Regions from separate parts of the Homo sapiens genome. Here all the other regions are linked to region 2. Evidence: fine-mapped expression QTL. A gene starts in region 2. Each other region holds a variant in brackets. All regions are shown on one strand. Distances are from middle to middle. Region 1 has its middle 13 kb from the start of KDR. Region 2 holds the start of SRD5A3 (steroid 5 alpha-reductase 3). Region 3 overlaps CLOCK (clock circadian regulator). Region 4 overlaps CLOCK (clock circadian regulator).

Evidence for each region. PIP is the estimated chance that this variant, and not a neighbour inherited with it, causes the effect.
Region 1: its variant is fine-mapped to the expression of SRD5A3 in spinal cord (GTEx, PIP above 0.99).
Region 3: its variant is fine-mapped to the expression of SRD5A3 in whole blood (TOPMed, PIP above 0.99). The same link has a PIP of 0.9 or more in T cells, blood mononuclear cells, lung, monocytes and nasal epithelium.
Region 4: its variant is fine-mapped to the expression of SRD5A3 in anterior cingulate cortex (GTEx, PIP above 0.99).

The regions. Positions count from the first base shown.
Region 1 is chr4:55,135,094-55,141,222 of GRCh38, forward strand. No RefSeq gene overlaps it. Among named protein-coding and RNA genes, the nearest start is that of KDR, 13 kb to the left of the region's middle. The variant TA/T (reference allele first, on the strand shown) is at 3,374.
Region 2 is chr4:55,343,316-55,349,444 of GRCh38, forward strand. SRD5A3 (steroid 5 alpha-reductase 3) reads left to right here and starts at 2,927. Exons shown (of 5, transcript NM_024592.5): 1 at 2,927-3,242. The coding sequence starts at 3,022. RefSeq lists an enhancer at 2,648-3,408 and silencers at 2,860-3,029, 3,240-3,509.
Region 3 is chr4:55,474,857-55,480,985 of GRCh38, forward strand. CLOCK (clock circadian regulator) reads right to left here. Exons shown (of 23, transcript NM_004898.4): 5 at 4,784-4,843; 6 at 3,959-4,107; 7 at 1,107-1,198. Among named protein-coding and RNA genes, the nearest start is that of CLOCK, 69 kb to the right of the region's middle. The variant A/G (reference allele first, on the strand shown) is at 3,324.
Region 4 is chr4:55,453,710-55,459,838 of GRCh38, forward strand. CLOCK (clock circadian regulator) reads right to left here. Exons shown (of 23, transcript NM_004898.4): 10 at 5,439-5,552; 11 at 5,183-5,301; 12 at 2,509-2,591; 13 at 2,188-2,294; 14 at 1-115. Among named protein-coding and RNA genes, the nearest start is that of TMEM165, 61 kb to the left of the region's middle. The variant A/G (reference allele first, on the strand shown) is at 3,721.

The DNA of each region.
Region 1 (6,129 bases), 210 kb before region 2:
CTACCTACCAGCCAATGCCCTTCACTGGCTGACATTCCTTTGCTCAACCCTAAACATAGGGATCGCCAAATCCATTCTTGGTCACCATCCCTTGTACTCTTCCATGACTTTCTCAGGAATTGTATTTCCTCTTTTGCCTTTGACTATCTTCCTTATGGAGAAAACTTGAAAAATTGTGCTCTCCAACTCTGATTTTCTACCCTAGCTCCAGCCTCTAATCTCTAATTCTTCCTGGACATCTCTGTGTATGTTCCACCAATTTCTTAAATTCAAAGTGCCAAAAACTGAATTCTTTGTCTGTTTATACCCACCCTGCCTCCTTCAGCCTTCTTAAGCTCGAAGTCCCTCTAGATGCTTATACTACATTCCATGATATCCCCCTGCCTTTTCTTTTCCTCTCAAATCCAATTTTGTCTACATTCTTTACTTCCCTCATATCCATCTCCTATTTTCATTCATCAGACTGCCCTGACTCGTGACCAGTTTGCCTTTTTCCTGGAATATTCCAGTCCACTCATCACTCTGCTGCCAAAGTTATCTTCCTAAAACACAAAGTTCATCTGTCCTTCACCTTGGACAGTTGACCTCTGTACATAGCATAAAGCCCCAAATCCCAAGCCTTGTATTTAAGGGTTTTGTTCTTTGCTGCTTCCTATTTATACAACTTACCTCCCGGTATACCGTGGACATACTCTTAGTCCAACTTTCTAGATTTCAGTGGCCACCTCCAGAAAATGCATTACACTTTTTTGTCTCTTGCTTACTGTATGCCTTGAATGTGCTTTATTCCAATATCTGCCCATACGTAGTTGGCCCCTCTTTAAAAAGAGGCCCCAGGAAGTCTCTGCAATCCCTACTCATTCCCATCTCCCCATCTGACTTACTCTCTCCATGCCTGCAAGAGTAAGGATTCCTTAAGTTGTAAGAAACAGGAAAACCAACTCAATTTGGCCTGAATGTATAGGATCATGTTGTTGTAAGTTATGGGCTGGCTTCAGACAGTTTTTTCCAGAGTCTCATTGTGTCATCCTGCTGTTTTTCTCTGTGATTTTCTCAATTCTGCCTTCAGGCTGTCCTCATAATAGAAAAAAAAAACATGACTACACATTCTCACCCCACACTGTCCACAGAAAGACAGTGTCTCTTGAGAAATAAAAGGGAAGATCCTTTGATCCTTTGACCTAAGCACATCTTAAATCTCATTGCCTTATCCCTAAACCAATTACCAGAAGCAGGAAGGATCTGATAGCCTATGTCAGAGTCCACCTTTGCAATTAAGAATAGGCTCAATAACACCAAACTACATAATTAAAATAGAAAAGGGACTATTACTCAAAAAATTCTAAATATTTTTCTAGGAAGCAGGGGGAAATGGATGTTAAAGAGACAGCTAATCAATGACAATTATATTCCCCACGGTCCAAGAATATCTGTTGTGACATAAAGGATATCATGCCTTATAACAGGTTTATTTGAGTATGTGTGTCTGTCTCTCTCATTATATTGTAAGATGAAAGACAAGTTTAGTGTGGCTTACATAATCGTTTACTCTAAACTTCCAAATAATTGATGACAAGATTTTCATTCTTCTTCTGAAATAGTTTTTTCTGCATCCAACAGTATCATCATAATAATGACTAACATGTATTGAGTTATCATGTGTCAGGCCCTGTTGTAAGCATTTTACGTGTGTTGACTCCCTTAATTCTCACCATCAGGCTACACATTTCACAGATGCAGAAATTAGGGCTGAGGGAGGTTAAGTAACTTACCCAATCCTAAGCAGCTTGTGTATGGAGGAGCCAGGACTTGAGCCAAAGCAATGTGTTTCCAAAGTCTACACTCCAAAGCTGACTCTTATGCTGGTTGTATTTACTAATCTCAATAAAATGTACCTGTTGGCAAAACAGTAAAAAGCTACTTATCTTTCAGCCCACCCATTCAGACTACCACTCAGTCTTGCCAATTCTTTTTTAATGTATCTGTCCTTTATGGTTTGTTCTTACATTAAATTGACCATTCAAATTCTGACCATCTCTTGGCTAGAATTCTAGACTAATATATTTAAGAATCAATCCATCTCATATTTCCATCCCAAACTATACACTTAGCCTCAATACTTTTCTTCCTGACCTGATCCCCCATATTAAAGGTGGAACATCTTTCAGCTCATAATCAGAAGAGAATAAGACCATCAGAAGTTAAATATCTAGAGTGGCTTGTGACAACAAGTCTTATGGGGCAGCATGGTAATTGATTCTTTGATGTTGTCCCACCTCTGAGATGGAACTCATATAACTGTGAGAGCCCTTCAGAGATTATACAATCCAGTGCCTTCTCTTCAGTCAGGAATCCATTAACCATTAAAGATTAATCTTGATTATTAGCATCTTGAAGAGGCATTGAAAAGATTCTCCACAACCACACTTGGAAATACAGAACTTCTCCCCCCAGCATGTAACTGTGACAGCGGCATGCCATGAGGTTTCACCCCACGTTATGTACCCAGTATCCTGCTGCAGTGCCAGAGGCCTGCTCCTTGAGCACAGATCACAGATTGCCAAGCAATCTCTACTAATTCATTACTTTGCTTTCTAATAGCAAGGTAATTATGATTTATCTATGCAAACACCAGCATTTTAGATGTTTTAAAAGTATTACGCATGCACTAGATATATTGTTCCTTTTCTTAGGGAATTTATGGATATGTATCATTTTATTTTTAAGTTTTAACTTTCTTATGTATTTATTTATTTGAGATTTATTAGTGTTGAATCAGTGGTTCTCAACCCCGGCTACACATTAGAATCTGCAGGGTCTGGGGAGCTTTGAAAACCTGGTAGCTGGCGCCTTCCTACATCATAAATCAAAATCTTTGGGAGGAAAGATTTGATCAATAGATTTTTGTTGTTGTTGTTTATTTGTTTTCTACTATGATTCTGTTGTGCAGCCAAAGTAGAGAGACATCATGTTAAACTCTTGTTCATGAGAACAGAAATATCTTTCCAAAATTTAGAAATAAAAACTTTATAGCTTCAGGATGATTCCGTCCATTGGGTACAAGAGCCACAGTGAGCTTTCCAAAGAGCACCAAAAATACATGAGAAATTTGAAAACCGTAACACATAAGAGCAAAATAATTTATTCCTAACAAACTCAAAATTATGAAGAATACTTTTAAATACATTTCACCCCCCAAAATCTGTTTCATGTGAATGACTGTTAAGGTGTTTGGCATGATTCAGGGTGAGTCTTCCACATGTAAGGGCATTTATAACAAGTTCTTAAAGCATTCCTGAGTATTTCAAATTGCTATTTAACATTTGACTGATGAAATGTTTCTACCTACCACTGGGAAAAAAAGTAGAAGAAG[TA/T]AAAAAGTCTGAAGTCAACAGTCTGGTACTAATAATTCACTTTGATAGGAAGAATTACAGCGTTCCAAGTCTTAGCTTCAAACAGAAGATAAGCTTTTTATGTTTGTTGAGGCAGCTCTCTCCTTTTTTTCTGAGTCATGCTTTTTGTGAAACGCTACTATGAATGAAAGAAGAACTGCGTGAGGGGGATTGAGTGGGAGGAAGACACCAAAATTGAGTTTCAAGAAATATACATCATCTAAATCAGTTAATCTGATCTAGAAACATTGCTGAACATAATGGAGTATGTGGTGTCGTCTTTTGCCCTTCCTAACTCCTAAAATCAAAAGTCAAATTCTAATAAACTAGAGTAATATGTAGAGCTAACTCATATCCAGTTAAAAGAATTCTTTAGGGTCTAGAATGAGGACCCCAGAGTACAGCCACCTTTAAAATTCTTGGCCGGGAGTGGTGGCTCGTGTCTGTAATCCCCAGCATTTTGGGAGGCCGAGGTGGGTGGATCACGAGTCAGGAGTTTAAGACCAGCCTGGTCAAGATGGTGAAACCCCGTCTCTACTAAAAATACAAAAAAATTAGCCGGGCATGATGGCGGGCGCCTGTAATCCCAGCCACTCGGGAAGCTGAGGCAGAGAATTGCTTGAACCCAGGAAGCAGAGGTTGCAGTGAGCCAAGATCACGCCACTGCACTCCAGCCTGGGCGACGGAGACTCGACTCAAAAAAAAAAAAAAAAAAAAAAAAAAAATTCTTTATAAGCTTGTGTTTCAAAAAGTTTTAAAACATCTGTATGTGTGTGCTTGTGTACAGAATACACACTAAAACCATACCCATCAGAATCTAACAGCGGTTATTCCTCAGTGAGAAAAATATGAATGACTCAAATTTTCTTCAACCATCACATAATACTTTTTATATGTATATGCATAGCAGAAAAGTCTTGAAGGGCTCACATGAAACTTAATTACTCCTGAGGACCAGAATGGGGTGGTAATGATGGAAGGGGTCTCATTTATTACTCTATATTCTTTCATATTATTGAATGTTTTTATTAATAATTTATAATTGAAAACGATAGTTTAAATAATAATAAACATATGATTAACATTTGAATTTTAAAAGAGCCATTAAAGACCATACTCATTCTTTCCAGTTGGGAAGTGTCTTTATTAATATCTCATCTGCCCAGGTGGGTAAGAGAACGTGAACAGAAATGCTCTCACATTTTTAATATTTGTTATGGCAACATCTCACTTCCAGGTACCAAAACCTGTGTCATTTTCCATTACTGCATAACAAATGACTCCAAAACCTAGTGGCTTCAAATAACGAGAATTTATTATCTCAGTTTTTGCAGGTCAGTGAGGGCAGTCTAACTGGGTTGATCTGATTCTGGGTCCTTCATGAGCTTGCGGTCAAGATGTCAGCAAGGGATGTGGTCATATGAAGGCTTGACTGGGGCTGAAGAATACCTTTCTGGTGTGACTCACTCACATGACTATTGGCAAGAGAACTCAGGTCTTCACTAAATATTGGGAATCTCTATAGGGCTACTTGAGTGTCCTTATGTCATGGAAGCTGCCTTCCGCAGAGCAAGTGACCCAAGGTAGCAAGGTGGAAGCCACACGTCTTCTATGACCCAGACCCAGAAGTCATACACTGTCAGGTCCACGGTATCCTATTAGTTCACAGTTCAGCCCTCTTCCGTGTGGGAGAACAGTAATTCCAGGACTTTCATACCAGGGGCAGGGGTTACTGGGGGCCCTCTTGGAGTTTATTACAATTTCCGTCATTAGTGTTTTATAGTTTTCAACATCCAAATCCTGACCATATTTTTATAGATGTATCCCAAAGTATTTCATATTCTTTGATGTCATTGTAAATGGTACCATTTTTAAGTTTTAATCTCCAATTGTTTTTTGCTATTATATAGAAATATAATCAATTTTTATATTGTCCTTGTAACCTGTGCCCTTGCTAATCTCACATATTAGTTCTAGTAGGTTTTGATAGATTTGGAGATTTTCTATGTAGATGATAATGTTACCATTAATAAAGACAGTTTTAGTTCTTCCTTTCCAATCTGTATGCCTTTTATTTATTTGTTGGCTTGTTGCATAGACTAGGATCTCTAATATAATGTTGAATAGAGGTAATGAGAATGTGCATCCTTGTCCCATATCCAAGCTTGAGAAGAAAGTATGTAGTTTTTCATCATTAAGTATGATGTTTTAGGTTTTCCATAGATACTTTTTATCAGGCTGAGGAAGTTCCCTTCTATTTCTAACTTATTGGAATTTATGATGAATAGATGTTGAATTTAGTCAAATGTTTTTTCTGACTCTATTGAAATAATAATATGGTTGTTCTTCTTTAGTCTGCTGCTATGTCAAATTGCATTGATTGATTTTTGAATGTTGAGCCAAACTTGCATTCCTGGCAAAATAACCACTTAGATATAATGTGCTTTCTTTTATTTTTTAATATATGGCTAGATTCAATTTGCCAATGTTTTGTTAAAAATTTTTGAACCTATATTAATGAGGGATATTAGTCTTCAGTTTTTTTTTTCTGTTTCTGTTTTGTTATCTTGACAATGATAGCCTCATAAAATTAGTTAAGAAGTATTCTCTTCTATTTGCTGAACCATAGATATTTGCAGGTAAAATGATATTATCTTGGACTTGATTCAAATTATTTTGGATGGATAGAGGGATGGATGTGAATATACATGATACAGGATAGTCCAGGAGTTTATAA
Region 2 (6,129 bases):
TTGCTGAGAGATCTTTTGTCTCTGTGCTGACTTTTCTTCATGGCACCGATTATCTATTTCTAACAGTTTTGGTATTTCTAACATCTTACATATCCTTATTAGATTTATTCCTAGACATATATTTTATGCCATTGTGAATTGTACCTTTGAAACATACAAATTTTTGTTCGTTGATGAGAAATAAAAATGTACAATTTCCTGTTTGTTGCTGGGAAATAGAAATAATATTTATGAACAGATTTTTATCTCCAGCAACCTCCCCAAACTGCCTACTAGTTCTGATACCTTATCTGTGGATGCCATTGGAGTTTCTATTATTGGAGTTTCATATAATCATCAAATAATGACAGCGTTATTTCTTACTTAGCAGTCCTTATATGTTTTATTTCTTTTTCTGATTTATTGAGATGGCTAGGGACTTAAAGCACTGACTCTAAGGATAATTGAATTTAGATTCATATTTTGAAGGTAGAGCCAACAGGATTTGCTGACAGATTGCATTTAGGCTATGAGAGAAAGACAGGAATCAAGGTTGAGTTTAGGGTTTTTGGCCTGAGCAACTGGAAAAATGGCTTTGCCGTTTACTGCAGGCAATACCAGTAGTTTGTTGAACATATAGTGCAGTTAATTAAATGAAGAAAGACAAAAATGCTCACTGATATTTATTAGCAATGATCTTTCTAACAGATGTTAGCCTGGTATTCCACTTTTGAACTAACTCACTCCAGTAAGGATTTACATTTACAAATACTCCCAGGAGGGTTTAACTTACGGCTTTCTGTTCAGCCACTGCCATCTACAGGGGGCTTCTCTGAATATAAACTGTGCATGCTGATTAAAATCTAAAAAATAGCCAGGCAGGGTGGCTCACGCCTGTAATCTCAGCACTTTGGGAGGCCGAGGCAAGCGGATCACCTGAGGTCGGGAGTTTGAGACCAGCCTGACCAACATGGAGAAACCCCGTCTCTACTAATAATACAAAATTAGCCTGGTGTGGTGTCACATGCCTGTAATCCCAGCTACTCGGGAGGCTGAGGCAGAATAGCTTGAACCCAGGAGGCAGAGGTCACGGTGAGCCAAGATCGTGCCATTGCACTCCAGCCCGGGCAACAAGAGTGAAACTCGGTCTCAAAAAAAAAAATCTAAAAAATATATGGGATGATTTTCCCCTCCAGCCTCCTCAACCCTTCCTGTTTCCACTACACACACACTCACACATACACACACACTTATCTTGTTTTCAATCTTGCCCCAGGTCAGACAACTGTAAGAGAAACTCCTACCCAGGAAACTGAGTCCCTGCAATGCACTTACAAGTAGCTTCTCTGAAAAGAAAAAGATCATGGACAGACCAGCTGCATTTACAGAGAGTTAACCTAAGAAAAATAAAGAAACAGTGAAGGGGTGCCAGGAGCATTGGCTCATGCTTGTAATCCCAGCACTTTGGGAGGCCGAGGCAGATGGATCACGAGGTCAGGAGATCAAGACCATCCTGGCTAACACAGTGAAACCCCATCTCCACTAAAAATACAAAAAAAAAAAAAAAAAAAAAGCCAGGCGTGGTTGGGGGGGCACCTGTAGTCCCAGCTATTCGGGAGGCTGAGGTAGGAGAATGGTGTGAACCTGGGAGGCAGAGCTTGCAGTGAGCAGAGATCAGGCCACTGCACTCCAGCCTGGGCGACAAAGCGAGACTCCATCTCAAAAAAAAAAAAAAGAAAAGAAAGAAACAGTGAAAGGGTGACTCCCGCAAAAGAGATCCAGGATCACTCAATAAGGCCTCATTGTCCTAGCTAGAATGCCAATTTAACCATCCTTAATCACCTGGCTGTCAAAGGACGGGTAAAGCCTTAGGTGTCTTTTGCACAAAGAAGAAAACTTTAAAAGCTTGCTCATTTAACAGTCCAAAGTCCCACTAACCTACCCACCCTGATGTTTATTCAACACACATATCGGGTATCTCATTGGGGTAAGGGTGATGAGTTGGCTACCTCTCCCCTCTTCCACTTCTCACCCACCACCCAATCTCAAAAATGTAAGCTCCAAATAAGCAGTGACAATTATCTTGTAAACCCCTCTGTCCTCAGTATCCAAAATGATGCCTGTCATACAGTAGGCATACAATACTTCAGAATTAACATTTTAAAGACTTTTAAATACTTAAAAGAGCTAGATTTTCACTTATAGTAAATAAAATCAGTGTTGTTTAAAATCAGTGAGTCAATAAATAGCATTGTCACTACCTGAGATAAATGTTACAGGAAACAGCTGATGGAATTTAAAAACTTTGCTTCTAAGGATTGGAACCCTATTGGTAAGCGACTGCTGTTTTTTAAACACAGTTTTTACCACTATGATTTTTATTATTATGTGCAATTACTTGTCTACATGTTTACATTATACACATATCCAACACATTTCCAGCATCCTAACATAATTATTCATTTTTGGGTGTGATCTGCCTTCTTTATCCATATATACACACATTCATATTAATATAGTTGTTTGCAATCATAGCTATGTATTTTTATGGTTGGTTTTGTTTTTCACTTCACATATTGTTTCCTAAACAGCTTTCCCTGTTTCTACACTCGTCATAATAATTCTCAATGACTGCATGATATTCTAACATGTCAGTGTATCATAATTTAGCTAAATAAACTAAAATGCAACATGTAAGGTTTCCATTTTTTGCTTTGGAGATAATGTTGATAAGAGTGGCAGACACGTGGTCTCGTCTGTTTTGCGTCTTTGCTTCTGATGAATCATATTCTGGAGCTCCATCTAAGAATCCCCATGCCCAGATTAGGGACTGCGAGCGACCACCCAGCGCCAGCGCGACCAGGACCAAGGACCTCCGCGGCTGAGCGGCGAGTCCGGGAGGGGCTCTGCGCGTCCCCGCCCCGCGCCGCGTCACCGACGTCCCGCTAGGCTGAGACCGGTGCGCCGCGCGCTAGTGGCCGCTCTTCCGCGGGCTAGCGGGCGGTGGGGGCGCCAGCAGCGCGGAAGGCGGGCACGCGGGCCATGGCTCCCTGGGCGGAGGCCGAGCACTCGGCGCTGAACCCGCTGCGCGCGGTGTGGCTCACGCTGACCGCCGCCTTCCTGCTGACCCTACTGCTGCAGCTCCTGCCGCCCGGCCTGCTCCCGGGCTGCGCGATCTTCCAGGACCTGATCCGCTATGGGAAAACCAAGTGTGGGGAGCCGTCGCGCCCCGCCGCCTGCCGAGCCTTTGATGTCCCCAAGAGGTAACCGCGCCCCGGTCCCGAGCCGCGGTGGTCAAGGCGCTGAGAGTTCGGGGCGCCCCGGCTCGCGGGCAGCCAGCAGGGGGCAGCAGAGGCGGGACCCGGCCTGGGAGGCCCTGGCGGGTTCCCGGGCGCAGCACGGCGCTCCCTCGGCCTGGCCCCGGCCATGCCCCGGCTGCTGCGTGGCTCCGGGGAGCAGTGCCCGGGTGTCCGCGGACGCCGAGGGAGAGCGGAGCCGCTTGCACTCAGCTGGAGGAATGTGAACTGGTAGCCGCACGGAGCCTTTCCCTGTGGGAAATGGCAACGCATCCGAATTTAGGCCTGGTCATGCGAATTTAGGCGGCAAATTGAAGTGCCCCTTGCCCCAAATTCTCCTTTTTCCCGTACCCTGCACTCCAGTGGCTCATACTCTAACTTGAGGTCACCGGGAATCATTTGTGGAAATGAAGTTAGGCCGGCTCTTCGGCCTCGGCTTCCCCCGTTTCTCTTCCCAACCCTTGCAGTGGGGACAAAGGACTGAGTCGCCCTAACCTGCACCTTGGCAGGTGCCCCTGGGGAAGGTGGCCCAAGGTGCAGGTCATAGGCAGGCCCGTCCCGAAGCTCCATTTGACTTTCGAAAAATTCTGTAACCCAGTTCAGCGAAGGATTAAATCGTCAGGTTTTAAATAGAGACCTGTTATAATTTTCTTCTTCTCCTTTTTCCACTTTAAATTCAGGACATAGCTGGAAAGAGTTGGCCAAATACTATTCGAGATGGTAGAAATAGAACAGTGCCCCTTAAGATGCATCTTAGGCCGGGCGCAGTGGCTCACGCCTGTAATCCCAGCACTTTAGGAGGCTGAGGCAGGCGGATCGCTTGAGTTCAGGAGTTCGAGACCAGGCTGGGAAATATAGTGAGACTCCGTCTCTCCTGAAAATACAAAAAATTGGCAGGGCTTGGTGGCGTGTGCCTGTAGTGCCAGCTACTTGGAATGAAGGCAGGAAGATCATCTGAGATCAGGCATTGGAGACTGCAGTGGGCTATAATCATGGCACTGCACTCTAGCCTGGGCAACAGAGAAATACCTTGTATTTAAAAAAAATTTTTTTTTAAAGGTTAAAAACATCTGGGTTGTCGCTTGAAACACTCATAGGCAGTGCCCCAGGTCCGCAGGCAACAAAGGGACAAGTATAATTTGGCTTCTAAAACTTGGATAATCTGCGAATTTTGACTGTCAGAGAAAGATGTGTCATGTGTTAACACAGAGAAGGGAGAACTAGGTCATTCTGAGGCACCCTAAAGGGAAGAAGTAGAAGTACATGAAACAAATTGATCAAACCTCCTGTTTCCTAGAGGCTCTTTTTAAGCAAAAATTACCTGTTATCCCATTTGTAATCAGGGTTGAATCCTTTTATACTTCACAGCAATTTATTTTCTGAGTTTTGAGAAAGGTACTAGTCTAGTGTACCTGGATTAAATGGCACATGTAAAATCATCCCCTGAACTTGCATACACCCCAGCTGTTGCAACTCAAGTCTGTTATTACATGACAGCCAAGAAAGAGACTTGGTACCTTTTCCTTATTCATTACTGTAACAGTTGGTTCTGTTTGGACTTCCTGTAATTTCTACTCTATTGTGAAATAATTTACACCTTTTTCTTCTTCCAGAATTCTACAGTAGAACCTCCCATAGTGTTCAAGTGCCCTTCCCCTCCTTCTCTAAATTTAAACAGACATTTCTTTTAGTACTGGAGAAGGTACAAAACATCCAGACCAATAATGAAAGGCATTTTTATTGTGACAAAAAAAAGATAACTTGCATCAAAACTGGCAGTGTCTCCAAAAAATTAATACATGTATTACTCTCTTTTTAAATTTTATACCCCTGTTTATATGAAATAGGCAGATAATTAGAGTTGGGTGGAGGTAAGAGTCTATGGCCTCTTTTTTATACGTCTCTGTATTTTCCAAAATGTCTTCATTCACAAGATGCTTATCACTTTTATCATTTAAAAAAATGTGCTAATGGCTAAGGAGCATGTGGGAGAGATTTTACTGGTTTATAAATAGTAACCACCATTGACTAAATGTTTACATATATGATTATGTGATGACTACTAAGGAGTACGTGCCTTTCCTCATTTAATCCTCACAGTGGACCTGTGAGGGAGATGTTATTGTCATTATTCCCATTTACACACATGCAGACTCAAGCTTAGAAGATAGCAGTTGTGCAGTGATGCTAGTACTAGCAAGGGTGGTACCTGAACCCTGCCTGTTGGAATTTAAATCCCAAGCTCTTATCCTCTGGTATACTTCGTGGGAAATATCTTGTACCATGTGAAGCTCAATCTGTGTGAAAGATTAAGTGAGAATGGATTTATCCCAGATGGTAGCATTTAGTAAATATCTTGGTTAATCCAAATTTAAAATCATTTGGTAACGTTAACCTTGATACTTATATGTGAATATTTTTCCTGTGCAAAATCTAGTAGTACTCTTTTGTTTTGTTTTTTTGAGATGGAGTCTCGCTCTGTCGCCCAGGCTGGAACGTAGTGGCTCAGTCTTAGCTCACTGCAACCTCTGCCTCCTGGGTTCAAGCAATTCTCCTCCCTCAGTCTCCTGAGTAGCTGGGACTAGAGGTGCACACCACCATGCCTGGCTAATTTTTGTATTTTTTAGTGGAGACGGGGTTTCAACATTTTGGCTAGGCTGGTCTTGAACTCGTGACCTCAAGTGATCCACCCACCTTGGCCTCCCAAAATGCTGGGATTACAGGCATGAGCCACTGCACCCGGCCCTCTAGCAGTACTCTTAAAAATGAAAATAAGTTCATAATTGCTACAGTTAGAAATAGGCAGTTGTAAATCCCATTTCTGCAAATAAGGCAGTATGTAGGTAATTTTGTT
Region 3 (6,129 bases), 130 kb after region 2:
ACAATGTACTTGGTAGCCCAAGAGTGCTGATGGAGATGTACAAGGAGATTAATGTTGTTTTCATGCCTGCTAACACAATACCCATTCTGCAGCCCATGGGTCAAGGAATAATTTTGACTTTCAAGTCTTATTTAAGAAATACACTTCATAAGGCTACAGTTCCCATAGATAGTGATTCATGTGATGGATCTGGGCAAAGTCAACTGAAAACCTTCTGGAAAGAATTCACCCGTCTAGATGGCATGAGAAGATTTCTGATTCATGGGAGAAGGTCAAAATATCAACATTACCAAGAGTTAAGAAGAAGTTGATTACTTGTGGATAACTTTGAGGGGTTCAAGATGTCAGTGAAGGAAGTAACTGCAGATGTGGTAGAAACGGCAAGAGAATTAGAATTAAAAGTGGAGTCTGAAGATGTGACTGATTGCTGCAATCTGCTAATAAACCCGAACTGATGAGGAGTTGCTCCACTGATGAGTAAACAAAGTGATTTCTTGAGATCGACTCTACTCCTGAAGAAGATGTGAATACTGTTGACATGACAGCAAAGGATACAGAATATTACATAAATTTAGTTGATAGAGCAGCAGCAGGGTTTGAGAGTACTGACTGTAATTTTGAAAGAAGTTCTACTCTGGGTAAAATGCTATCAAACAGCACTGCATGTTACAGAGAAATCTTGAAAGGAAGAGTGAATCAGTGTGGCAAACTTCATTGCTGACTCATTTTAAGAAATTGCCGTAGCCACCCCAACCTTCAGCAACCACCACCCTAATCAGTTAGTAGCCACTGACACTGAGGCAATACCTTCCACCAGCAAAAAGATTAAGACTTGCTGAAGGCTCAGATGATTGTTAGCATTTTTTAGCAATAAAGTATTTTTAAATTTAGGTATGATCAGTATTTTTTATATAATGTTATTACACACCTAATAGACTACAGGGAAACAAAACAATTCATGTGACTCATTTTACTGAAATATTAGCTTTATTGCAGTGGTCTGGAACTCAACTCGCAATATCGCCAAGGTACACCTGGATATTAAGTCACCCTGTGATTTCTTTTTTGAGGAAAATAAAACTTTCAAAAATTAAATCTGGACATACCTCTAACATTAATTGTGTAAACTCTTCATTACTAAGGAATGTAGGTTTCCAGTCCTGTCGAATTTCACTAGCATCTGACTGTGCAGTGATTTCTGTAAACAGATTGACATATTAGTGGCATACTCCAACCACCGGAGGAGTACAAAAGCCCTACAAGTTATCTTGTCTCTTCCCATTCTAATTAAAGATGACAACCGTAGGCATTAACATTTATTGGGTAGATATCAAGAGGTCCAGGTTTTGGTATGATGAAATATTTGAGATAACATGGCAAGTTATCTCCTTGGATTTGGTCTCTTGGTAATACCAGTCTCTTCGGTTTTTCTCTTGGTACTCTGATAGTTATGTTGCTGATGGGCCTGAGATTGCTTCCTATTTGACACAATGACCAAAGAAGATTTTTGCTCCAAGAATTTTGAAGCAATTCTTTTTTTCCTTTTCCTTCCCTTGCCATTCAAATAGCAATGTCTAGAGCAGCACTAGGGAAATTAGCTGAAAAAGGCCAAAGAGGTCACTAGGTTTGCTTTCAACAAAGAATGCCTTAGGCCTGCCTACTGCTGGGCAAAAAGCTTCTTCCCAACATTAAGTGCTCTATCTTAATTAATCAAAGAGACTAAATTAATATTTTATGCAAAAACTTTACTACAGTAATATTCCCACAGTGATTTTTCTTAGTGTCCTCCTTGTACAACAGTAGAGAGATGGTGAAAAATTTGGAGATCCCTGCTGTGGGACATATGTTTGTCACAATTATTACCATTTTATTTCACTACATACTTCTAATAGATTTAGTTATGAAAAAGCTATTCATAAATGATGAAACCTAGTAACAAATGTTTTTCTATTTTTTAATGTAGACATATTAAAACAAGCAGGCAGAATAAAAATCTATGTCATAGACTATATTCTACAAAATATACTCTAATTTGTAGTAAGAAGTATAAACTAAATTCTGATTTTATCATCAGATAGAGAAATACAGCATACTGTCCCTCATCAAAAGTTAGCATATTAGAAATGCCTGTAGTGGAATATGAAGAGTAACTAAGAAGTAGAGCTACTAAATGTGCGGAATACAGTTGTGTTTTTCAAATTCACATCAATTATATACATTTGGGAAAAGGATTTAAATCCACAAACAAATCCAATCAAGTTTCATTAAACATAGGCCTATTTTAGGATGATACATATATAAAATCCTTTTACCTTAACAGAAATACTATTTTTGTGAGAATTATGTATCTGATTTTGAAAAAAAAAATTACCTAATGCCACAATTCATCCTCTATTGACGGGGAAATATATGCATTTCATTTCATTCAACAACCATTTATTGAACTCCTAGTATCTTTGGACTGGTTTCAATGAGTGTGCCATTTAACAATAGGCACTGAGGTTAGTGAGATACTATCTGTAGAGGTAAAATGTAATAATAGTGGTGGCAATAAATATTGACACATTTACGAAAGAATCAACAGAATTTGGCAACTGTGATATGGTGCTAAGGAAGCTGAAAAAAAATCCTAAAATTTTTTCAGGTTTAAGTCTTAGGTGACTAAAAGGATGGTGGTATAAAAATGAAAAAAGGCAAGTTAAGAGAAAGAGGTAACTTGACAAAATGAAAATAAATTCAATTTTAGATGCACTGAGTTTGAGGACATGCAAAAGAAAGATCTAGAAGTTATCTGGAAATACATGGCTAAAATGTTTGCATCTAAAAATAGAAATCTGGTAGGTTAATAGAGACACAATAGCTGAAGCTATGGAATGAGATAAGCAAGAGAAAGAGTGTACAGAAAGCAAGAGAACAAGGATAAGACTTAGGAATGTCACATTTAGAGGGTAGAAAGAGAGGAAAGAAGTTAGTTTCAGTTAGAAAAGGGGAGGAGAAAGTACAATATAAGGGAAGCCAAGGGAGGAGGGATAAAAATTTCCAGTGCTGTACAGATGCAGAAGAAGATGCGGTATAAGAAAAAGCTATTGCTTTATTGAGGGATAGGAAGGTAATGTCATTAGTGAAATTAACAAAAACACTTTCAACGAGTGGTGGAGCATAAACCAGTCCTGTAAGGCATTACCAACTGAGCTAGGCAGAAGTAAAACAGAGGCACTAATTACTAACTGTCCTGAGTTTTACAGTTTCATTTGCATTTGAAAAAGGAAATTTCCTTTTACAGGTTTTTTTTAAATCTATTATTATCTGTTACCAAAATACTT[A/G]ATATTCTTTAAATTTTCTTTCCATGACTCATTTGTCAAGATGATTTTCTTCTATTAACAAATACTTTATTTTATAGTGTTGATTTACTAGATATACATTGAAACCTTTTAAAATGACACATAAGAACTTTATACTATCCAGCTTTTTCCTTTCTTTCAAATACACCCATAATTTTCCAACACAAACATGCTTCAGTGACAATGAAGTCTCCCTGCCTCTCTGCTTTTGCACATATTCCCTTTGTGTGACATGCTGTCTTCCTTAATCTAAAAGACTCAGTTGAAAAATCAACTATTTTAAAAGTCTCCCTGACATACTCTTTCCTGTGTTTTTGCTGCAAACAGTTTACAAGCACTACTCACATTTGTAATTATGTGCTTACATGTTTGTCTGCCCTGGCTTGACTTAACTTCAAATCCAGGACTGTTACCCTGCATCATGAGGATTTAGCATGTAGTAGGCACGGAATAAATGTTTGTTGAATGAAAGAATGAACATATTAGGAAACCTTTTAAAATGCAATTGATTTCTCTCTCTTAAAAAAGCCAAGGAAGCATCCAATCTTAAGCATCTCTGCCAAGATTCTAACTAATGCTTTGAGAGTCTGTTCCATTTTACAGAGTTAAAAATTTACCTTTATGTTTTCGTAAAAAATCAATGCTTTTCTGCAGAACAGTAGATTTGTCCATCTTTCTAGCATTACCAGGAAGCATGGATCCCAGTTCTTTAATGAGAACATTAAATTGATCTCTACGTTTCTTTTCAGATTTGTTTCTAGATACTCTGATGAAATGAAAAATATGCATTTTTTAAACAATCCATTTAATTACACAAGTAGTTTAATACAATGTTAATTTAGACATGACACAGCATGTACTTCTATCAACATAGATGGTAACAAATATCTTCCAGGTTACCAATATACAGTTAATTTGGGCAATAATTTTTCAGCTCAGTTTATTACTAAAGAAAATTTTACAAATCATACATTTGACAAACATGTTTTTATGAAAATGCCAATAAGAAAAACTGCATTCAAATCACAAGTTTTATTCAATCTAATACTTCCAGTGATTGTTAACTTACATGGTTATTATAAATATATGTACTAAATGAATAAAGACGCTATTCTATGTGAAGCAGTAACCAGTAAACAAACAGCTATTGAGAAAAACTTGATTATTTATAAAACAATCATTTTATGATACCTGTAATTATCTGCTTTGAAGTCAGATTTTCTAATTCAGTTTCTGTTTAAGCAAAGCATAATACTTTTCCAAAAGGTCAGAAGATATTTAATTTATAAACTACATACCAATATTCTAAGTTCTTCCACCTTGCTAATATATCTAAACTCCTAAAGCACATAGCTTTTGGAAATCATTTATTCACTATTTATTTACCATTATATTTATCTATTATTCATTCATTTACTATTTTATATCTCTAATCAAACTACCTTTTCGCTTTGTCCTTGTCATCTTCTTCCACCAACCCATCAAAAATACTACTGTCATCTCTAAAAGAAAGCGGATAGAGAAAGTAAGAGCAGACTCACTAAGCAACAGCAATACTAAAGTGACATGTAAATCAACTCAGTTATGCCCTATGATTTTTGTAAAGTTAATGAGTTATAACATTCAAACTACTAACCTATTTCCTAGTAAACATTCAAAAATCAAAATTCAGTAATAATTATATTTTTAAGCTTATTACATAAATTGTAAAAGTATTTATACTTAGCTATATTATGAACACATCATGCTAAACAAGAATTTAACCAGTTTAAATATCTTGTTTCAAACTTTTAGTAACGGTAAAAACGTATAGAAAGTCAGTGTTTGCCATTATATAAAATTATTTTTAACTATAACAGCATAATTTAAATTTTTTCTTAGATATTTACTTTCTAAAACCACAATTACTCGTAAACATCACAATGTAATGCATTAACTTATATTAATACATTTCATTCATTTACTAATTCATTTGACAAATATGTATTAGCACTCATGTGCTCTGTTCTGGACATGTTTAGTAAGCAATGAATAAGACATTTAGCTGCTTTCCTACAGTTTTTCCTTCTTTTTCCTTTTTTTCTGGAGACAGGGTCTTACTCTGCTGCCCAGACTGGAGTGCAGTTGCACAAACATGGCTCACTGCAGCCTCAACCTCCTGGGTTCAAGAAGTCCTCTTGCCTCAGCCTGCTGAGTAGCTGGGACCACAGGTACATGCCACCATGACTGGCTAGTTTTTTTATATTTTTGTAGAGATGGGGTCTTGCTATGTTGACCAGGCTGGTCTTGAACTCCTGGGCTCAAATGACCTTCCTATCTCAGCCTCCTAAAGTGTTGGGATTACAGGTGTGAGCTGCCGTACCCAGCCTCATTTTCTAGTAGATAGAAACAAGTATAAAAATGGGAGATGAGGCTAGGCGCAGTGGCTCACGCCTGTAATCCCAGCATTTTGGGAGGCCGAGGCGGGCGGATCACGAGGTCCAGGAGATCGAGACCATCCTGGCTAACACAGTGAAACCCAGTCTCTACTAAAGATACAAAAACTTAGCCGGGCGTGGTGATGGGCAACTGTAGTCCCAGCTACTCAGGAGGCTGAGGCAGGAGAATGGCGTGAACCCAGGAGGTGGAGCTTGCAGTGAGCCGAGATCGTACCACTGCACTCCAGCCTGGCCAACAGAGTGAGACTCTGTCTCAAAAAAAAAAAAGAGATGAGTTTTAATTTTTTTTAAAGGGGTGATGTTTTAGTAACTGCAGTCTGAGCGGTTAGTGGGGGACACGTGAGCTAGGA
Region 4 (6,129 bases), 110 kb after region 2:
GGCCTTGAATTCCACTGATGGTAAGTGATATAATAATGAGTCTGAAGCCAAATCCACTGTTGCCCCTTAGTCAGGAACCTATAATAACATGATTTGCCTTTCCCATATTGCATTACTAAAAGGAAAATAGAGAAATATTTTTTCTTTAATTCATATTATATAAAGATTGTTTTTTAACCAAAAGCTATCATTTACATTTAAGTTTACACATACTATTATTTTTCTGGCCTTTTGATAACATATATGTCAATATGAAAATGTTATTCTTTAGAGCTAGTTTAAGGTCCCAAGCAATTATCAGATCTACAGTGCCCAATTCACAGCTAGTCACTGCTGATCTTACAATCTTTCCATACACAATTAATACTTAAGAATTCACACTGCTGACTTCCTCCTGCCTAGATATACAGAGGGTAATAACAATAAATAATCACCCCTGAGTTTTTTCTCCTAACTACTCTGGCAGGCACAGAATCTTTGAAGCATTTAATTTTAAACCTTAACTAACCAAAATCAAAGTAACTGAGTCTGAAGTAACTGAGTGCAGTAACTGCCAAAACATGTGCTGTGGATTTTAAGTTCTGAAGCGTTTTAACAGATATTAAACAAAAAAATGGGTTTTGGGCCAGGTGTGGTGGCTCACGCCTGTAATCTCAGTACTTTAGGAAGCAGAGGTGGGAGGATCACTTGAGGTCAGGAGTTTGAGACCACCCTGGCTCACATAGTGAAACCCCATCTCTACTGAAAATACAAAAATTAGCCAGGCATGGTGGTACGTGCCTGTAATCCCAGCTACTCACGAGGCTGAGGCAAGAGAATCACTTGAACCCGGGAGGTGGAGGCTGCAGTGAGCTGAGACACGCCACTGCACTCCAGCCTGGGTGACAAAGCAGGACTCCATCCCAAAAAAAAAAAAAAAAAAAAAAAAAGGGTTTGTAGTTAAATTAATTTGGGAAACTTTTTGTTAAATAGGTGTCTTCAGTTTTCTCAAAACCTAGAGTATGCTAATGCATGTGCAGATTCTCTGAGGGATTATGAAGTGTTTCCCCATCTTCCTTGACTATAAAGTCTTTTTTTATGGACCAACATTCGGTGGAACAAACCTTAGAAAATGCTAGTCAAGAATCTCTCAATCTGTCCCCCCACCCCCCAACCCCGCCGCCACCGCCTCTCACTCTCTAAGGAGGAAATCAAGGTCTACAAACAAACTTGCTGTCCAAAGTTACCCAGCTAGTTAATAGAGGTATCAGCTCTTTAGACAACATCATGGTGCTTAATGCCCACATCTTTTGTGCTGAAATGACTTTACTCTGAAAATTTTCCATAGAGTTAATGCTATTATACAACCTGCTTCATTTTCATACAGTGAGGTTTATAACAGCAGCATAAAACGTCATGAAAAGGTCTAAAATATCTAGTTAAGCTTTAGTGAACACTCAAGATGGTAAGCATCTGGGAGGAGGATCAGAGAAGCAAATAAAACATATCATTAAGGCAAACCTCATCATTAAAACAAACTTCTAAAATAAATACATGTGATAAAAAGAGTAGGCCTAGGCTCCAATCCTGTCTCTGCCACCAATGAGCTATGAAATTATGGGTGAATTACTTAGCCTTACTGTGTTCTCAGCTTACTCATGAAGATAATAATAGCATCTACCTTTTAGAACTGTGATGGAGAATAATGAAGATAATAGATGTAAAGTGTTTAGAACAGTGCCTGGCACAAAGGATGATAATGCTCCTGCTCTAACAACAATAATAAGCAGATAACACCAAGCACTTACTATGAGCTTTCTAAGACAGATTTTCCAGACATGTACCTAGCTCCTGAAAAGATTCACATGCCTCAAAATCAAAATTTAGGAAACAATACTCCAAAAGTTTGAAGTATTACAATTTTCAAAGGAATCTACTTCTCTTACTCCAGATATAGAGCTCACGTGCTTCAGAACAAGGTGTATTAGATGCAATATTATAAAATTCTACTTATTATAAAAATAGGAACAAGTTTAAACTTGATCTATGATTCCTACTACATTGGTTATATACATAAAGCAAAATCTTTTAGCATATTTCAAAAATATGAAAATGATTATAAATCTGTGTCTTACTACCTATCATTTCAGGACAGGACTTCTGCTTATAAAACAGTTATTATCACCAGAAATGTTAAAATCTACTTACAGTGCTCATGACATTTTGCCAAATTTTCTAGGTCATCCACATGATAGTAATCATAGCCTGATGTTCCCAGAACTTCAAATGGCAAATACCCTATTATGGGTGGTGCCCTAAATTACACAGAAAACAATCATTATTATAAGTTTTTCCATAATAAGAAATATTTCAACTAGAAATAAACTTTGGGGGGGGGGCTTTATTTTTCAAAAAATGGGAACAGGTTTCAAAGTCCTAATTTAAAAAAAAGTTTGCCCTTGATCCATTAATTTCAAGAATTATATAACATGACTATTACCTTTTCATGGAATTTAAAAATGGAATTACCTGTGATCTAGAAACAGAAACTTCCATTCTAAACTATGTCTAGATGTAAACTCTTCATTGGGTTCTTCAACAGTGCACATTTCCTACAAATAAATAATTAAAATTTATAAATACTTTGTGTCCTTAAGAATATTAAATATTGCTACATATAAAAATAAGTCATGGCCAGGTGCAGTGGCTCACACCTGTAATCCCAGCACTTTGGGAGGCTGAGGTGGGCAAATCACTTAGGTCAGGAGTTTGAGACCAGCCTGGCCAACATGGTGAAACCCGATTTCTACTAAAAATACAAAAAATAGCAGGGCACGGTGGCGGGCACCTGTAATCCCAGCTATTCGGCAGGCTGAGGCAGCAGGATCACTTGAACCCAGGAGGTGGAGGTTAAATAAATACATAAATAAATAGTCATTACTAGATAAACTTTTCCTAAACAAGTTAGTTGTTTCTATGTATGTATATATTTACCTATTTCTTTGTTTGACACAGGGTCTCACTCTGTCACTCAGCCTGAAGTACAGTGGTGTGATCTCAGTTCACTGCAGCCTCAACATCCTAGGCTCAAGCGATCCTCCTGCCTCAGCTTCCCAAGTAGCTGGGACTATAGGGATGCACCACCACGCCCGGCTAATTTTTGTATTTTTATTTGTAGAGGTGGGGGGTCTATGTTGTCTAGGCTGGTCTTCAACTCCTGGGCTCAAGCAACCTGCCCACCACAGCCTCCCAAAGTGCTGGGATTCTAGGCATAAGCCAAAATGCAGGCCCTTCTAAACAAGTTAATATATTTTAATTTTCCAGTACTAAAGAATGTGGTAATAAATAACCTTTAGATGCAAGCTTTTGGGTGGGTACTTCTCACTCTACACATTTTCCATTCACACATGCCTATAAACGCTTATTCAAAATTCAGACCTCTCTCCTGAATTACAGTTCCATATTTCCAAATATCTGAATGTCCTCATACATCTCAAATTCAATATGTCCTAAAATAAACTAACTGCTTTACTCCTCACACCCAATCACACAATTTTCCGTATTATTCTATACATGTGTAGTGGCCAGTGTCTAGAAATCTGATAGTTAAAAAAACATACTCTTTCATTTTTACCTTTCATCATCTAAGTGGCCATTACTAAATCTTTTCCATTTCATCTAAGTATTTTAAAAATCAATTCTATCTCATCCATCTTGAGTGCATTGGTTTAGACCCCTGCC[A/G]TCACTGATTTGCTACAGTGTTCACCAGTCTCCCTGTCCTTCAACTCATCTTCTCTTCTAGGGCCACAATTACCTTACCAATACTCAAATATTATATGACTTCCCTGCTAAAAAACCTTCAGTGGTTCCTTGTGCTAAACTCTCTTCAGCATGGAGAAATAAACAAGAAAGAAACAAATTTTATTTCTGGTTTCTGATTACTTTTCTAGCCTTACCTCCCACTATCTCTTCCCCCTCCACACACTAACCCTAGACTCTAGTCATACTAAACAATGTATTCCATCCTGCCTCTGTGTCCCTGAATGACCTGCAGCACTCTGTAATAGTTGAGAGCTTGGGCTTTGAGAAAAAAACAATTATTAATTAATAGAATCAAGTCCCAGTTTCATCACTAATAGCTGAGACTTTGGGCAAGTCACTTAACTTCCCTAAGCCTGTTTCCTTATAATGTAAAATGAGGGATCGTAATGGCATCTAACTTATAGGGTTGTCATAAGAATTAATGAGATAATGCATATAAAATACACAGCATGTAGTAAGCACTCAAATGTTAACAACTATTATTTCATAAGATCAAAACAAACCAAGCAAGACTGGCTTAAGATCTTCTATTAATTCAGTACTTTGTCCTATACTATGATGTCCCCCCAAATTTATTTGAGACAGAGTCAGACTCTGTCTCAAAATAAAATGCAAACACAGTTCACTGCAGCCTCGACCTCCTGGGCTCAAATGATCCTCCTGCCTCAGCCTCCTGAGTAACTGAGACCACAGGTGTGTAACACCATGCCTGGCTAATTTTTTGTATTTTTTGTAGAGATGGGGTCTTGTCACGTTGCCCAGGCTGGTCTCAAACTACTGGGCTCAGGCAATCCTCTCGCCTTGCTCTCCCAAAGTGCTGGGATTACAGGCATGAGTCACCTCGCCTGGCCCCGCCGAAATTTTAAATCTTAGCCTGGCTGCCTCTTTCCAGTCAGTTTCTAGTGGTTAACTCTTTCACTTTCCCACTTCCCTACTTGTCATCTGTTTGTTGGGTCCAGGAAATAAAAATAAAATACCTAATTTTACATTTGAAAAGGTAAGTTATATGTGGCAAAGAGCCACTTGTACATTTCAAATAAAAATTTAAAAGTTACCTTCTAAAAATAAAGATTCCAAAAACCTAGATTTTTGGACTTTCCCTTTTAATAGAGATAATGAACAACACACAAAAGGATCCTAAAATCTTCCACAAAAGTAGGGCAATATTGATATATAATAATCACTGGTTAACTGCAAAGGATATATACTAAAAAATTAGTTATACAATTTAATGAGTGTCTTGATAACTCATCGTTTCAAAAATATTATCATGCATATTTAATGACTCATAGCCATTCCACCTCAATGTCTGCAGGAAGTTTCAGGCAGCTCTCAGCATATGAACTGAAATCCCCTTTGGGAAATAAAATTAAAAACATACCTTGATGAACTGAGGTGTAGCTAACCTGACAGTAGCTACAAAACAAACTCTATCTTCATAAGATGGCCTATGTGTGCGTTGTATAGTTCCTTCAAAACCATTGTGTGCTGAAGAGGATACTAAAACAATAGGGAAATATGTATCATCAGTTATGCCAGCAAAACCTAATTGTCACTGATATTCAAACATCTATGTCTTTAAGAGCACAGAAAAATAACAAGTTAAAACACATTGTGAGAGAAGCATTTTAACTCACCACTGTTTAAAGATTTGAAATTTCCTATAAATTTTACATATTCATAGGTAGATGGCTCCTTTGGGTCTATTGTTCCTCGCAGCATGTGACAACAGAATTCTAACTGATTTTTTGCTGAAATAAAAGAGATTTTAAAAATCACATATTTCTGATATAAAACAATGATTGATATACCACATAAAGTAAGATCATAAAAGTTGTGTAAGTTTACAACCATTATTTTCCCCAACAGAAGTCGTCAATGACATTTAGTTCATAAAAGTAGAGCACCTTCAGGAGAGGATCTCACTTTGTCTTTAATAGAAAAAATAGATTTTCTGGTGCAAACAACTTAATGTTTCCCTATTTTTAGCTACTCATCCTTTTCATTCTTTACTCACTTTCAAAGGAAAGTTTTGCTTCACATTCTAAAGCTAATCCTTCCATCTCTACCATTTATAGTCTTTCCTATTTTCTCTAGGACCCGGGCCACATCACTGTTCCTTATTCCTTTAGCATCTACACCTTTGGGTCCTTACTTTCTTCTTTTTTTTGAGACAGGGTCTTGATTTGTCACCCAGGCTGGAGTGCAGTGGCATGATCACTGCTCACTGTGGCATTGAACTCCTGGGCTCAAGTGAGCCCCCTGCCTCAGCCTCCCAAGTACGCAAGACTACAGGTGTGAGCCACCATGCCTGGCTAATTTTTAATT